Linked DNA regions of Homo sapiens: region 1 is linked to region 2. Evidence: fine-mapped expression QTL. A gene starts in region 2. The other region holds a variant in brackets. All regions are shown on one strand. Distances are from middle to middle.

Evidence for each region. PIP is the estimated chance that this variant, and not a neighbour inherited with it, causes the effect.
Region 1: its variant is fine-mapped to the expression of LINC03066 in caudate (GTEx, PIP 0.97). The same link has a PIP of 0.9 or more in nucleus accumbens and prefrontal cortex.

Annotation. Positions count from the first base shown.
Region 1 is chr6:146,217-151,591 of GRCh38, reverse strand. It overlaps the pseudogene SEPTIN14P6. Among named protein-coding and RNA genes, the nearest start is that of LIRIL2R, 31 kb to the left of the region's middle. The variant G/T (reference allele first, on the strand shown) is at 2,394.
Region 2 is chr6:202,873-208,247 of GRCh38, reverse strand. LINC03066 (long intergenic non-protein coding RNA 3066) reads left to right here and starts at 2,764. Exons shown (of 8, transcript NR_126020.1): 1 at 2,764-3,361.

The DNA.
Region 1 (5,375 bases), 57 kb after region 2:
CCAAGCCTTCATTTTGGGCTCTTAATTAGTTTATTCAACCATCACAATCTCAAATGCTAGCAAAGCTGAGAACTCAGTTTTGAAATTTACTCTTGGGTCCCCTCAGCCAAGAGTGGGTCTGTTCAGTCAGTTGGGAGCTTAGGATTTCATTTTCATTTATCATTGCTAATGGGAAAGAGTACGCTGTCTTCATGGCAGCTGAATTTGCAAGAAACTCCTTGGATGGGGTTAATGGCAGCTGTATTTTTCTGGGAGCTCTGCTTTAACTGGATAAAGTAAGTTCTGCTAAGATTTCTTCCTTTATCTTCAGTATCTCAAATGCTTTCATTTAAATAATCTTTATAACAACTTTTGATGTCTGAGTGGATTCCCACACAGTCATCTATTGTAAGACTTTCTGATTCCTTTTTTTTCCTTTGTTCATTATGAATAAGGCTTCTGTAAATAATTGCATGGTAGCTTTTGTTTGGAAATAGCATCAAAGTAGTTGTCAAAATACTTAGGAATGTGATTTTTGGATTGTAAGGTGAAACTTGTTTAGCTTTGGAAAAAAGTGCCCAACTTGTAATAGGGGAGGAAAAATAATTTTCTATGTTTTTGGAATTCTGAGATGGGACCCTCTGTAAAAACTGACAGATTAAAATGAGAAAAACAGAAAAGTTTAAAAACATGTATACCTTATGGATACATGGGAGATACTCAGGGCAAAATGAGTAAATCTCCAACAGGTGGCTTTCAATTCAAGCATAAATACTATGTTGAACTTAAAGAAAGAAGATTTGAGGTGCAGTAGTGGGGAGTTAGCCAGCAAAAGCACAGTAGACAAGGGTAAGGTTTGTTATACAGACTTAAGTCCATGCAGTCTCCATTGATAAGACTCTTTAGTGATTTAGTTATCCTTCTCTTCTTGGTGTTGAGAGAGGTAGCTTTTGAATGGGGATTTCCTTTATAGATGTAAATTTCCCTTACACAAGGGTAACTTCTACTCTGTTTTCAGAACTTCCTTTGTTAGCATTTTTTTTTTTCAAAATAATCAGCTTGGAATAATTCTTAAGCAAAAGGGACATATTTTGGGGTGGCATATTCTGGTTTCCTACCATTATATTTTGGGGTGGCATATTTTGGTCTTATACACTGTGTTCCACCGGCAATGAAAAGAGTTCTTGTTTTTCCTCCAGCAATTTGTCATTTTTTAAAGAGTTTAGCAGTTCTAAGAGATGCAGACCAGCTGTGCTATCTCATTGTGGTTTTCAGTTCTCTAGCATGTTGAGCATGTTTTTGTATGTTTACCTGCCATCTGTAGATCTTCCTTGGTAAGATGTCTGTTGAGATCTGTGTGCCTTTTTAATTGGGCTGTTTAACTTATTGTTTAGTTTTAAGAATTTTTAAATATATTTTGAATACAAATTCTCAGATCTGTATTTTGCAAATATTTTCTTCAATATGTGGCTTGTCTTTTTGTTATCTTAACAAGGTCTTCTCCAGAGTATAAACTTTAAATATTAAGAAATCCACATTGTCATTTCTTCTGTGTATATCAACCTTTTGTGTCATTTGTTAAAATTCATTACCAAACCCAAAGGCACATAGCTTTTCTTCTATAGATTCTTCTAGAAATGGTATAGTTTTGCATTTTTAGTGTAAGGATGATTTTGAGTGATTATTTGTGTAAGTTGTAAAGTTTTCATCTACATGCATATCATTTCCTATGGTTTCCAATTAATCCTTCCATCACTATTTTTGGGAAACACACAGGATAGTGGGCTCTGTTAGAGGAGATAGATAGCTAGACATGAACAGGAGGGGGAGCTCCTGGAAAAGGGAAAGTCTGAGAAGGCTCACCTGGAGGGACCACCAAAAATGCACATATTAGTAGCATCTCTAGTGCTGGAGTGGATGGGCACTTGTCAGTTGTGGGTAGGAGTGCGAAGAGGTACCTATGCAGAAAGAAAAACCCTAGAACTCTCTTTAAGATGCCCCAACCATCATTCACTCTGCAATAAAAATGTCAGAATATTGGTAGCTACATGCTGATAAGAAGGACAAAGGGGACATTCTTAAGAGAAACCTGGCACCCTAAGTGCAGATTAGGGCAAAGAAGGACATTCAAAAGAGATAGGCAGGCACACTGGGTACAAACGTGACCGCTGTCAGCCTGCCTGGGATGGCGGGAAGGAGGCTGGTGCCAGAGTGGATTCGGATTGATCACCACACATGTACCTCAACCAACAGTGAGGAGGTCCCACAAGCCTAAGTGTGGCAAGTCGGGGACCTAAGGCAGTAGCAGGAAAACCAGACAAAGAGAACAGGTGGAGACTTGAGACAGAGGCAGGAATGTGAAGAAGTCCAAAATAAAATTCCCTGCACAGGACTCCTAGGATGTTTTCATGCAC[G/T]ATCAGCCCACTCCTCCCTATTTTTCTACAATGAGCTCTTTACACTGTATTTCTTTTCAATGAAGTTGTCTCCCATTTTTGTACTGCCTCTTGGTGAAAATCTTTCTTCCAAGTTAGACAAGAACTGGGACATCAGCTCTCCCTAGTACTAGCTCCGTTTCAGTTGAATTTACAGAACTGATGGGGCTTAAAAACTGATGCTCTGACTTTAAGTGGTGCAGGAGGCAGCCAGTAGGGGACGCCAACCGTCACACTGGGAGCAAGAGAGCCCTGCCTAGTCCCCATCTGCCTGCAGGTGGCGTGCTGCCTCGACACTGCCACCAAGAGGGCCAGGCAGTGTCTCCAGCTGCCAGCAGGTGGCGTACGACGACTACACTGTGAGCAACAGGGCCCTGCAGTGTCCTTAGCTGCCAGCAGGTGTCATACGGGCACCACACCATGAGCAAGAGGACCCCGCAGTGCCCTGGTTGCCAACAGGGGGCGTGCTGCCACTACACTGTGAGCGAGAGGTTCCTGTAGTGCCCCCAGGGGCCAGAAGAGGGCGTGCCCCCACTGCACTGCAAGCAAGAGGGCCCGGCAGTGTCCCCAGCTGCCAGCAGGGGGGTGTGCTGCCACCACACTGTGAGCAAGAGGACCCTGCAATGTCCCTAGCTGCCACCAGGCGGCGTGCAGCCGCTATACTGTGAGCAAGAGGGCCCTGCATTGCCCCGGCGCCAGCAGGGGGCGCTGGCCACCACTATAAGCAACAGAGCCCTGCAGCTGCCCTAGTCGCCAGCAGGGGGCGCACTGGCACAGCACCGTGACCAAGCGGGTCCTGTAGTGCCCAGCTGCAAGCAGGGGGCGGTCGAGCCCGGCTTTTCGAATTACTGAGGTTCCACCCGTCTCCGCGCCTGCACCGCGCCCCACCCCCAGCACAGGGGCGTGCGACTGTGCTCCTGCACCACGCCACCCCAACCCCCGCCCGGCGGCGTGCTCTCTGCGCATCCACCGCGCCTCCCGCGCGCACGTCGCGTCAGTCTGTGCGTGCCCGCGCCGGCGCGGGGTGCCTTTGCGGGGGCAGAGCTGCGTTCTGCTTAACACAGACCCGGGGGACACCAAAAACGCGGAGCAGCTTTCTCAGCACACACCTTGGGGGCACGGCCTCGCTTTGGGACAACTCAGGGCAGCATCGACGGTGAACAAAATCCTTTCTGTTTGCAGCCCTGAATAATCAGGGTTAGGGTTAGGGTTAGGGGTTAGGGTAGGGTTAGGGTTAGGATTAGGGGTTAGGGTTAGGGTTAGGGTTAGGGTTTAGGGTTAGGGTTAGGGTTAGGGTTAGGGTTAGGGTTATTGGTTAGGGTTAGGGTTAGGGGTTAGGGTTAGGAGTTAGGGTTAGGGGTTAGGGTTAGGGTTCAGGTTCGGGGTTCGGGTTGGGGTTGGGTTTGGGGTTAGGGTTAGGGTTAGGTTTTGGGGTTAGGGTTAGGGTTTGGAGTTAGGGGTTAGGGTTAGGGGTTACCGTTAGGGTTAGTGTAGGGGTTAGGGGTTAGGCTTAGTGGTTAGGGTTAGGGTTAGGCTTAGGGTTAGATTACAATTTCTAACCTGTTTTATTTTGTTTTTTTTCTGAGACAGGGTCTCCCTCTTTTGTCCAAGGCTGGAGTGTGGTAGTGCTATCACAGCTGACTGCAGCCTCAACCTTCCAGGCTGAAGCGATCCTCCCATCTCAATCTCCTACGTGGCTGAGACTACAGGTGCTTGCCACTATGCCCAACTAACATTTGGAATTTTCGTATACGTGGATTCTAGAGGGGTGACAGCGAAACGTGAGTAAGCATGGATTTTGGTATATGCAGAGATGGGGGGCTGGAACTAATTCTGTATACTGAGGGATGACGACTGTATATGTTTTTACAATTACGCTGTAGGATACATACTGTTGCATAGCCTTGAAAATAATAATTTTTAATTGAGTGGAATAATAATAATATTGATAAAAGTAGCAGCTGGCCAGGTGTGGTGGCTCACACTGGTAATCGCAACACTTTGGGAGGCTGAGGCAGGAGGATGGCTTGAGGCCAAGAGTTTGCGATAGGCCTTGGAAACAAAGGGAGTCACCATCCCTATAGAAAAATACATGAATTAGCCTAGTGTGGTGGCATGTTCCTGTAGTCCCAGCTACTTGGGAGGCTGAGGTGGGAGGATCACTTGAGCCCAGGGAGGCTGAGACTGCAGTGAGTCATGATCAGGCCTCTGCACTCCAGCCTGGGTGACAGAGTGAGACCCTGTCTCTAAACAACAAAAAAGTAGCAGCTAACATCAACTGACCTTTTACCGGGTGCCTATGGATACCATAGTTTAATTTCTTATAACTGTTTCTTATTTTACTTACCAACTCTGTCTTCAGTTACTCCCAGATTTTTACTGTGTGTGTACAGATGACCTTTTGGAGGAGCCTCAACAGGCACAGCTCCTCCCTCATAGTGGCCCATTTAGGCCCAACTCATGACTGTCGGGCTATTTCCAGGCCTAGTGTCTGCCTCGTGGCTGACTGTTGAAGCCCAAAACTTCCTCAAATCAGCCTTTTGCCCAACTTCTGTCTACTGTCGGACTCTACAGGCCAGCCTCTGCCTCACAGTGGACCCTCCAGACCCAGATGGTGTCTCACTGTGGCATCCTCAGGCGAAGCTCCTGCCTTTTGGCAGCCTCTCCGGGCCCAGCTCCTCCTGCCTCCCAGTGGCCTCTTTCGGCCCAGCCCAGCTCATGGCTCTCGGCGGCCTTCCCAGGCCCCGCTTTTGACTTTTGGCAGCCTCTTCAGGCGCAGAACTTGATCTCCAGTCGGCCTTTGCAGGCCCGGCCTCCTGCCTCTCGAAGGCCTGCACGGGCCTGGCCTCGGCCTTGGCCTCACAGCGGACTCTCCACGCCCAGCTAGCTCTCGCCTCACTGAGGCCTCCCCAGTCCAAAGCTCCTGCCTTTCGGCCACTTCGGCAGGTCCAGCTCCTGCCTGCC
Region 2 (5,375 bases):
TGTTTGTTTTTTGAGATGAAGTCTTGTTCTGTTGCCCAGGCTGGAGTGCAGTGGTGTGATCTCGGCTCACTGCAACCTCCGCCTACTGGGTTCAAGTGATTCTCCTGCCTCAGCCTCCCGAGTAGCTGGGATTAAAAGCATGGGCCATCAGGCCTGGCTAATTTTTGTATTTTCAGTAGAGACGGGGTTTCACCATGTTGCCCAGGCTGGTCTCGAACTCCTGGCCTCAGGTGATCTGCCTACCTTAGCCTCACAAAGTGCTGAGATTACAAGCATGAGCCACTGCACCTGGCCAAATTTTGTTTTTATATTTAAAAATACCTGGACATATGGCCAGGAGCAGTGGCTCATGCCTGTAATCCCAGCACTTTGGGATGCTGAGGCGGGTAGATCATTTGAGGTCAGGAGTTCAAGACCAGCCTGGGCAACATGGTGAAACCCCATCTCTACTGAAAATACAAAAATTAGCTGACTGTGATGGTGGGTGCCTGTAATCTCAGGTACTCAGGAGGCTGAGGCAGGAGAATCACTTAATCCGGGAGGTGGAGGTTGCAGTGAGCCAAAATCATGCCACTGCGTGATCTGTCCAGCCTGAGCGACAGAACAAAACTCTGTCTAAAAACAAAAACAAAAAACCTGGACATACCAGAAAATAAAATGCAGAGGTCATTAACATTTTTAGCTTTTCTTTTCTTTTTTTTTTTTAAGGAACCTTAAAGAAATGCTTGTGTTTAAGACAAACAGGCACTCCACATGATTCCCCTAAGCTCTGACGATGTTTATTTGGGTACAGCCTCCTCAGTTTATTTGCCTGGGGAGGAAACTAAGGCCCAGAGAAGTGAAGAGACTCTCCCTCCTCATGGCTCTGTCCTCTGCGAGGAAGAAGCATGGACGTTGCTGTCACTTTGTCTCCAACGCACCCTCAGTGCCTAGAACAGTGACTGGTACCACTCCCTGGCATCACTCACTAAGTGCAGGTTGAGTGTCCCTTATTTGAAATACTTGGAACCAGAAGTGTTTCAGATTTCAAATTTTTTTTGATTTTGGAATATTTGCAGAATTCATTCTGGCTGAGCATCCCTAATCTGATATCCAACATCCAAAACGCTCCAGTGAGTGCCTTCTTTAAGGGTCGTTTTGGTACTAAAACAGTTTTGGAGCATTTTGTATTTTTGGATTAGGGATGCTTAACCTGTATTTACTGAATAACTCAATTAATTTTAAGAGGCGAAAGGACCCATAAAGCCTCTGAGTTGCCTAGGAAGTGGCCACATTAACTCCAAGGATGAGGCGGACACCTTCTCGGGGCAGGATCGAACTGTTTCTGATCTTCAGCATCTGGCCCCATAAAATGAGAAGGGTTTTGCCTTGGGGTGAAACTGACCCTGGCATCTCCCTGGAGATGAAAAGCTCCTTATTTCCTAAAGATTCTTCTCAGAGCCAGAGGAAGTATGCTGAAATAGTCACAGTGATCATTTCTCATGAAGAGATATGAGTTTTACCCTCTTTTTAACTTTCTTCCTAATTTTTAAATAATAAGGTTGTATCACTCACAAAATAAGAATAACTTTATAGCACTCTGTATACATACATATATATGTGTATATATGTGTGTGTGTATGTATATATATATGTGTGTGTGTGTAAAGTCAGCAACAACAAGCCTTCCCCAAAGCGGCACACTGTCTGCATTTCTTCAGTGCCAACGTGAGGCACTTATGGGCATCCCCAGGGACTTGTGCGCCAGGCAGCTCCCATCGGCCCCGACGGCCAGTCCTGCCCACATGTGTGACATATATGGTGCTCCCAGACCTCCAAGGTTTGGTAAGAAAGAAAAACACTTGGACAACACACAGCCAGGCCGTGAACGTCACTTAGAAACGGGACCCATAAGAGCGACCTTCCCTGCTTCTCACGAGCCAGTGCATGCCCACACCAGTCCAGGCCTTTTCTTCTTCTACTGAGTGCTGCTTCCCGTCTCAGCTGATAGCACCACCACTCGTAGGTGAGTCCCTGTTCAACAGAACTCAGAGCTTTGCATCCATGGAGTGCCATGAACAAAAGTCACCGGTGTTTCTTAGGGAGAGAACTGCTTTTGCTCAGGGTCAGGATGCCCCACCTGCTTGGGGTGGGGAAGTTGAAGCTGGAGGAAGAGCTGGCTGCTCTGCAGAAGTTCAGAGGAATTGGAAGATGGGGCCAGGGAGGATGTGAGGAAGGGGAGGAAGGCAGAGACGGTGCAGGTGACTCAGCAGGAGGCTGGAGTCTAGAGGGAGAAGCTCCTTGACTGGGGTTGCTGAAGGGGTTTTAGAAATGAGGCTGTCAAAAAACATCACAGCTGCCTACTGCTTAATTTCTAGCTGACTCTGTGTTTCTAACCGTCTGTAGAGACTCCACACAGATAAAGCCCCTGTGCCACGGATTCTAGGGGGACGGGGCAAGAAGCCCAGTGCCAGGGTAGGAAGGAGGCCTTGGGAGGGGAGGCTGAAGAGTGAAAACTCAGGAGCAGATGCCGGGAGGCAGAAGTGACATCTGAACACACAGCCTCCGAGACAGTCCCTGGGTGGGAGACACTGAGGTTTCTGTTGTGCGCTGGATACGGCTTAAGCCTAATTTTACCTCAAATTTCAAAGGCCAGGGCGATCCAAGCTGATATTTGAGTTCCATTACCAGGCATATTCCTTACAACAAGAAGAATGTAAATTCTGTGGAAATTCTAGAACTTCTTTTTTACATTTAAACACAATTCCTTTGTTCCCATATCCTGAAATCAGTAAATTTAAGCAATTTTATTTTTCATTCTGTGCTTCAGGGATCTATGAGGGTCAACACATATTTATCACACGCTGACCTTGTGCTCAGGCCTATAGGAAAATGAACCTCCCTGCCCGCAATGACCTTAGAACCTAACTAAGGATATGGTTAAAACAAGCGCAGGATTGGGTGAGACCTGCTCAAGGGTCAGGCGCTGGTTTGTCGGGGAGAAATGTTGCCCAGGAAGGACAGGTGTGAAAGAAAGAGAAGATCCTGCAAGACCGGAGGGCCCAGGAAAGTCTGGGGGACTCAAAGGAGAGTTTCAGGATTGACCATGGGTGGACAGGGCTCTGCAGACCAGGATCTTTTCTATGCACACTTGGGGCCAGAAAGTTCTTTGTGGTGGGGGCTGTCCTGTACAATGCAGGAAGCTCAGCAGCATCCCTGGCCTCCACCCACTCAATGCCAGTGGCACTCCCTCCCTAGTTGTAAATGTGTGCAGACATTAGTACTTGTCACCTGCAGGGAAGAATCACCCCACTGAGAACCACATGCTGAGTCAAGGCAACAGCATAGGAATTGGAGCACGCAAGAGAGCTGGTCAACACAGGTGAGCTCTTGTGTGGGCCTCTCTATGGGCCTCCAGCCAGTCCCCAGACAACTCTGCTCTGGGCACCAGTGGCCACGTTCTCAGGGCAGGCACTACTGGTGATCATTCTACTCACACCTCTCTCTGGCATCAATGGCCTGATTACACACTGGGGATAGTAGGTAGTAGGTATATTTAGAGGGGCACAAAAATAACCGTGGCTGCCAAGCCAAAAAATTCAGAATTGCTCTCCTTAGTACAGGTTTAATATCGCTAATCTGACTTCAGAGTTTTGGATTAGGGATGCCAAACTGGTAAGTATAATGCAAAGATTCCAAAATCCAAAAAATCTGAAATACAAAACACTTCTGGTGGCAAGCATTTGGGACAACAAAGTGTGGTATATTTCTGATGAGATTTTGTCGTGTTTCAGAAAAATTAATTTGATAGTGATGTGCCCAATTGAATGCAAGGAAGGAGCAGGGTTTTCTGACCTGGTGATTGTGGATACGCCTCAGGAGGCTGATGACAATGAAACTGCGCCATCATTGTGTGGGTTCATTTGCTTTTCTGAGGAGGGATTCCATAGATTTCATCCGACACTCCACAGGTTGAGAGCTCTTGGATTCAACTGGTGCCCAAACACAAGACAGGACCACCAGTGCATATTTGAATAGGACAATCCTTCTGCCCATCCATCTGGTCCCTGCTTCCACTTCCCACAAGCAAACATCCAGTCCACAAAACTCATTGAGCAGCTGCAGTGAGCTGTGTGCCAAGCATGTGCCAGGGACTGGAGCTGCAAAGAGAGATGGAGGCCACAGGGAAGAGGCCACGAGATAGTCAGTTGTCTCATGAAGTAGAATACAGGTGAAGCCAGATTATCACAAGCCATGAAAACCTTCTGGAGGTGACGTCTGAGCTTTGTCTTGCCAGTTGATCTCGCTAGAATACATACGAAGTAAAGAGGGGCCTGGAATTGCTGGTGGCTGAGGAAATGGGAGAGGAAAAAGCATGCCGGACAGTCACGGTGCAGGAAGCCCTCATCACTACTAAGACTTACTGACTAATCGCACACGGGGGAAGGAAGCTTGGGTGGCCGTGAGTCAAGGATCCAAGCCTGGAAGCCTGCAGACAATACTGACTGGGGTTGGCAGCAGAAAGGGGAGGACGTTTTGAGTGGGAAGACAATGAGTTTTGGTTTTAGATATCTTGAGTTGAAGGCAATGAGAGGATACCCAGAGACTATTCAGAACATCTTGAGAGGAACTGGGAATACAGGACTGCTGCTGGGGACATGTCAGGGAAAGAGGTGGGCAGAGAGGAAATGGGTCTGTTTTCTCAGGGGCAGTGAGGGGCACCGTCGAGCCAGCCTTCCACAGCTCTGGTTTCTCTGGGCACTTTCTTTCATGGGCTTCTTTGTGGGTCACAGACATGTTCGGTGGGGAGAAAAATCTCAGTAGAGCAACCTTCATTAAAGTTTCGGGTTCCAGGTTTGAATGAGTAGTTGGGTGTTGAGCAGGATCCTTCCCCGGAGTGATGAGGGGGAAGGGATGTTCAAGCACTGGGTGGAGGGTAGGCACATTCTATGTTTTGATAGAACCTCCTAGTCACATTCACCCCCATTGTGATGCCAGCCAGTGGTCCTCAAAACGTAGTGTCCATGAGAACCACTGAGAGCTTGTTAGGAAAAGCCATCAGCTCAGCCCCACCTCCCTAGAGATTGTGATGTTTAGGTCTGAGGTGGACTCATATGGGTTGTGTTTGTTTGTTTACTTTTTACACAGTAAATTTGGCTTTGTGGAGGTCAGTGGTGGAGTGTGCGGGTTTTATGAATTCTAGCACAGGGAGTGGATTTGTGTAACCACCACAATGCATGCAGAAAAGTTCCACCAGCCCAACAAGCTCCCTTAGCTACCGATTTCTACTCACACCTGACCCCACCTCACTCCCTTGGTAAACACAGGGCTTTTCTCTGTCACTATTGGTTTTTTATTTTCAAGTCTGGAATTATACAGTGTGTAACATTCAAGCC